Linked DNA regions of Homo sapiens: region 1 is reported to be linked to region 2. The links are microRNA targets in miRTarBase. Many come from high-throughput screens and were not tested one by one. Region 2 holds a microRNA gene; the other region holds the end of a gene's coding sequence.
The links. The annotated mature microRNA hsa-miR-577 reads UAGAUAAAAUAUUGGUACCUG and lies in region 2 at 2,033-2,053, shown strand. An mRNA with a match to its seed (bases 2 to 7 or 8) in the 3' UTR can be bound and repressed. Matches are read on the target gene's strand: a 7mer-m8 pairs with bases 2 to 8, a 7mer-A1 pairs with bases 2 to 7 and ends in A, and an 8mer does both.

Region 1: miRTarBase lists CNN3 as a target of hsa-miR-577. Seed matches in the 3' UTR shown: 7mer-m8 at 650-656.

What each region holds. Positions count from the first base shown.
Region 1 is chr1:94,895,220-94,898,317 of GRCh38, reverse strand. It overlaps CNN3 (calponin 3), which reads left to right. Exons shown (of 7, transcript NM_001839.5): 7 at 235-1,361. The coding sequence ends at 576. It overlaps SLC44A3 (solute carrier family 44 member 3), which reads right to left. Exons shown (of 15, transcript NM_001114106.3): 15 at 3,072-3,098. Among named protein-coding and RNA genes, the nearest start is that of CNN3-DT, 30 kb to the left of the region's middle.
Region 2 is chr4:114,654,742-114,657,839 of GRCh38, forward strand. It overlaps MIR577 (microRNA 577), which reads left to right and starts at 2,018; the gene lies at 2,018-2,113. The region is part of intron 2 of UGT8 (UDP glycosyltransferase 8); the gene reads left to right.

The DNA.
Region 1 (3,098 bases), not on the chromosome of region 2:
ATAGCAGAGCAAGGATTTTGAAGAAAGGTCTCACCTAGCTCAAAAGCCAATGAATATTGCTTCATGGAAGTGATTCGGTATCAGGATATTTTGGTTAAGCTAGCTTTACCCCTGAACCAAATGAAAGTTCATGTATTACTGTTCATATTCAATGTGAATTCTATAATTTATAAATTATTCACAAGAATAGATTCTAGCTGCTGTTTTAACTTTTATACTATGTTCTAATACCAGGCAGGGATGTTAGCACCAGGTACCAGAAGAGACATCTATGATCAGAAGCTAACATTACAGCCGGTGGACAACTCGACAATTTCCCTACAGATGGGTACCAACAAAGTTGCTTCCCAGAAAGGAATGAGTGTGTATGGGCTTGGGCGGCAAGTATATGATCCCAAATACTGTGCTGCTCCTACAGAACCTGTCATTCACAACGGAAGCCAAGGAACAGGAACAAATGGTTCGGAAATCAGTGATAGTGATTATCAGGCAGAATACCCTGATGAGTATCATGGCGAGTACCAGGATGACTACCCCAGAGATTACCAATATAGCGACCAAGGCATTGATTATTAGATCCACACAGAAGGAGCTCAGTATTTAGTCCTTTGTTTTTATTCAGTGAGAACCAAGCTAGCCTTGAGTAATTTTTATCTTGTCTTCCTAAAACACTATTAAGCTTATTGTACTTTTAAGAAAAATTGCCTTACGTACATTCCTTTTTCCTTTTTCTGCCTCTTCCCTCAATAGTTGCCTTTTAGTGCTGTAATAGTTAAATCCTACAGCATAATCAATAACTCGCATATGAAGTAAAAAGGAATACTGTGAAAGGGGAGTACTCTTGTACAGCCAGTTCTTTTATGCAAAAATCTATGCATTTTTACAATCTTATATTAAACTGGTATTTTCAAACAATAGGAAACTTTTTTTTTTTTTTTTTTTTTTTACAGTTTAGTGTATCTGGTTTCTACATGGAAGACTAAACTCATGCTTATTGCTAAATGTGGTCTTTGCCAACTAAATTTAAGATGCAGCATTTTAGAAATTTACATATCAATGTTTCTACAGTATTGTTTGCTAATTTTTAAATAAAGTCATGATCAGTGTGCATTTGTGATTATATGTGTACTCATTCTCTTACCTAGCGAACAAGATCTTTTCAGAGTGGTGTTTCTAAAAGAGCATGTACAAAAGTGGCCTGTGGACATTTAGGCCTGGGTGATGCATTTGCTCTTCCTGTTTGTGCCAATGTATCAATGTAGAGTTGCTCTGTTTTCTTCAACTGTATTTATTGCTGCATTTCTCAGCATAAACTTATCCCATTGTATTTTTTATAAATAAATATTTTTTTTGAACTTTCATATGAACCACAGGCTGATTATTTTCTGGCTAGCTTCTAGATAGGTAGGGTCAGATTTTTTTTTAAGTACCTTTTTCCTAGGTACTGTTACAAGGTACATTAACATTTTATTTACTTCACACAACACTGCACTCTATGCTTAAGGAGATTGAGGCTTAGGAAACCATTACACATAGTAAATGACAGAATTCTAATCATTTTCTGACCCTTGCTTATTTCACTGACTTGGCTGGCCCAGATTCATCTTAAATTCAACTTGGAATAATCTTAAAATCTTTAGGAATATTGACAGGAGGGGTGGGGAATTTTCCTATCTTAGGGTAAGTAAACATGAATAAGAAACATGCTAGGTCAGCCATAGGATGTGCTGCTTGGTAATAAGCCAGGGTTTATAGTGAAACATAAACCTTCAGTCCTGACAGAGGGAAGGACAAACAATAGCTAGGTGTCATAGTGACAAAAATGCAGTCACTAAAAGAAAATTAGTAACTCACACTTTCCGACATTGTCTCAGCCAAGCCATGTCTTCTAATAGGATTGGCTCTATTAGGTTTGGGGGCGAAAACCGTCTGTTTTTTGCTGAGAGATGAGGAGTATATACACATGGTTTGATGAGCCCACAAAAGTGAAGGCTATTTGCTCATCATTCCACAATGACTAGGTTTAATGCTTCTGGGAAACTGCTTGTAAAGGAAACTATTGGAGTCAACCTAATTCAATGGTGGCATTTAAGAAAAAAGTCATTGCATTTAAAGTAGACCTGAGTTCTAAGGCTTTCCTTGTCATCTTTGACTCTTCAAAGTTTAGGGAAGGGAAGCCTTATATCACACTACCTGCCCTGCCATTTAAGTCAGATTGATTCCCATGAGGCTGCCAATCAACATGTTAAAATGTTTCTATTTGGTTAGAGTTTTAAAAACGAAAAGCTCTTCCCCTCACTCCCATCTACATAAATCTCTGAGGTCCAGGCAGAAGTATTTTTAAAAATCTGTCTCCAGGTAATTTCTCAGGTGGGGCTGTGGTTGAAAACCACTTCTTCCAGAATGTCTGCTGTAAGAGGAGTGCTTGTGTATCAGGAGTTTGGATAAATTGTGTGTGCCATCACGGAATGTGATCTGGTGGAGAGACATAACAGAAAGTGGATTCACAGTCATATCAGAGAAGAGCATGGAGGAAAAGGACAGAAGAGAGGGCAAGTAATGCTGCTCAGAGGCATTGCAGAAGCATGATGCTATCAGAGCTGGGTTTTGAAGAATAAGTAGGAGTTTGCCATTAGCAAAGAGGAGGAAGAGTATTCAGAAAAAAAGGAAGAGCATGTGCACAGACTAAATCATTGGTTACACTCCTGCCTCTCCTGTACATGCCCAGTTCAGGTGGTAGTTCATGTTAGAGTAGACAGTTTTGGCTTTTATTGTCACCAAATCTAAGAATTGTACTTTGAAAAGTTAATCCATTTAGCATATTTCCAGGATTGGCTGAGTAGGGAAGTATCCTACTCTGTATAAAAGCAACTTTCCAAGCTGGGCATGGTGGCATGCCTGTAGTCCCAGCTGCTTGGGAGGCTGAGGCAGGAGGATCACTTGAGCCTAAGAGCTGGAGGCCGCAGTGAGCTATGATGGCACCTGTGCATAGACACTGTACTCCAACCTTGGGAACATAGTGAGATGCTGTCCCTTTAAAAAAAAAAATCCAGAGATTTCTGCTAACAAAATCCTTATCTTAAAAAGGTTTATTTATT
Region 2 (3,098 bases):
TTATCTAACCTTAGAACTCACATAGGATTACTTCTTCTGTAATCAGTTGACCAGAGAAGTCACGAGTCAGCCAAAGCTTACCTGCCCAAGTTTATACAGTGTGGACGTAGCACCTCTTGATGGGGACTTTCTGAAAACACATGTGGGACTGGAAATACTAATTTAGCTGTTTATGGGAACATACAGTCTGCCACACAATATAATTCCTATGTCTTTTGCAATGGCTTTATAATTTTCAAGTATGACTGATAACTTATATTTCCCTACATTGTTTTTACAAAATAGACCACTTACCAATTCCCGGTACCTAGTTTTTTGTTTTTTGTTTTTTTTTTTGTAAAGTAATTTGCAGCTTATTATGTTATTTAGATGCTGAAATTGATGGAGGGAAGTTTAAATTTAAAAATAAAAATCGATTATCTAGATTTTTCCACAATAAACTTTTATTTATTTAGTTTGCATCATCCAGAATCCTGGGATATTTGTTTTTGTTTGTTTTGTGTGTTTTTTCTCTAAAACAGTTTATTTGGGAATAGCAAGGGTCTGCAATGCTGGATATGCATGCCATTGCAGACCATGGATGCATCTGTGAGGGGTTTGGAGTAAGGGGAAGCTTTTAGAGACAAAAAGAAGTCCACATAAGTTGTTTTGAAACAAAGATTATTGGTTACAGGGGCTTATTCTAGGTGGTGGTGTTTGTTACTTGGTGGTAATGCTTGTTGATAGTAAACCATGTTTCTCATGTGGAATTGTTAAATTGAAAGCTGTCTTTTTTTATTTAATTTTTCTTTTGTAATATAACAATCCCCAACTACATTATTTTTAAAACAATATTAAGTCTGCAGGAAATTTGCAAACTCAGTTCAAAGTTATTTTTTTTACCAGAACCATCTGACAATAAGATTTCTATATGATACCCTGTCACCCTCCAAAACATTGATATATATTTTGTGCACATGAGGGCATTTTTCTGCATAATCACAATACAAACCATAAAAATAAGGAAATTAACAATGATATATTACTACCATCTAAGTTTTACACCTCAATGAAGTTTTGTGAGAGCCACTAATAATGTCCTTAATAAGGAAAGGATCCAGTTCAGAATTATCAGTGGCCTTTATTTGCTATGTCTTTAGGCTCCTTCTTGAACACTTACTCAGTGTTTCTTAGATTCTCATTGTTTTGATGTTGTTGAAGGATATCGGCCTGTTGTATAGAATGTCCCTCAATTTGGGTTTATCATTTGTTCCTCATAATTGGATTCAGGTTTTGCATCCTTACAGGAATATCACAGAAGGGATGCTATATTCTGCATGTTGCATCTGATTAGGTGGTACGTGATTTTGACTTGCTTCATTATTGATGATGTCCACTTTAATCGTTTGATTAAGGTGTTACTTACAAGACTTCTTTGCTGTCACATTACTAATTTTACTTGGTAGTCAGAATTGGAAGCTATGTAAATATTTCTCATCAGTCTCTGTGTCTTTATGGCATAATACTGATTATCATGAAAAAAATTGAGTGTTTTCTTTTTGTTTTTGTTTTTTTTTCTGGAAAGAAAGGAGGCAGACAGATTAGCTAGCAAGACTGCCTTTCTTTTGTTTATGTAGGTCACATAATTTAGTAGCTAAGCTTGATTTTTGAAAGGAGACATTTCTTTAAAGTGCTCAATAATTTGTTTAAAGTTCTAGGGAAACGACAGTGTTATTTATCCTGTTAACTGAATGGCAAAATAAAGCAGTGTACTTGCTGTTTATCCTTTCAAAGACTTAGATTACTATTAGCTTTCTTGATTTATTAAAAGAAATAAGTATTGAGCACCTACTGCATCTTACACCTAGGAGAAGAAAAGTCTTGTGAATAAACTCACATGCTACAAGAAGTGTGGTAGGTGCCCTGTTGAAAGAACAGGTCTCACAGGGGAGAACAATAGAGGAGATACTTTGTTGTGATCTTGGTAAATAACTGTGACCTGAGGGGGAAGTTTCAGGCACCCAAGGCAGGCTGTATTTGGGGGAGTGAAGAGTAGATAAAATATTGGTACCTGATGAATCTGAGGCCAGGTTTCAATACTTTATCTGCTCTTCATTTCCCCATATCTACTTACTGTAGGTACGGCCTCATTAAAAAATATAAACTCTCTGAAGACAGAACATTTTGTTTATTTATTCTTTGATATGTCCCAAGTGTCAGATATGGTACATAGCAGCTGGTCATGGCTATCAAATAATCATTTATCAAATAGTGACCCAGAAATTAGGTGGGTTTCCAAGTCCATTAATCAAATTTCTTTTGTAACGTAAGAAAGATTTAGATATCATTTCCGTAGTGATTTTTTTTTTCTGGTGAGAGTTTCACCTCCGTTTATTATTTTTGTCCTTTTTTTCTATCTCGTGGTTACTTTCCATATCTCCTCAGTACCTTGCCATCATCATATCCTCGGGATGTCCCTGCTGCTTGTGTTCAGTTCCTTGAAGGTCTTAAGAACCTTGAAAATTTAACTTTTCAAAGTCAAATCAGGGTTTCAAATTTTGCTTACTTATTTTAATTGTAACTGTACTGGCAAAATTAATCAAGCTCACAATGAAGAAAAACCGATACTGCAGAATCTCAGTGGAAATGAATACACCCTTCTGGGTGCTTATTTCATTCTCCTGAACTTTCACTGTGTTGAAGGCATCTTTTGAGATTTTAAAAATAGAACCATTGCCTTGACATTGATCTCTCTATTGCTTCTGTAGCGTAATTGTAGTTTATACCCTTCTAGATGATCTGGGAAATCATTTGAGTTTTCTGAAAAACTGAAAACTAGATTTGATGCTGCATGTGAACATTTTTGGTACTACTTTTCATTTATGTATTTTAAACAACTTTATTCTGAAAAGTCCAAAACATAGTGAACAAATACAACTGAGAGAAAATATCTTGGTGCAGAATGACCTTTTTTTTTTTCCTTTTCTCAATGTGGATATCATTTCAGTCCATAATCTGTGTATTACTTATCAGATATCATGGCCAGGGAAGAGAACAGCATAATTTTTAGTTGACAAAGCACTTTTATATATTTAATCTCATTTAATCTCTGCAGTGTG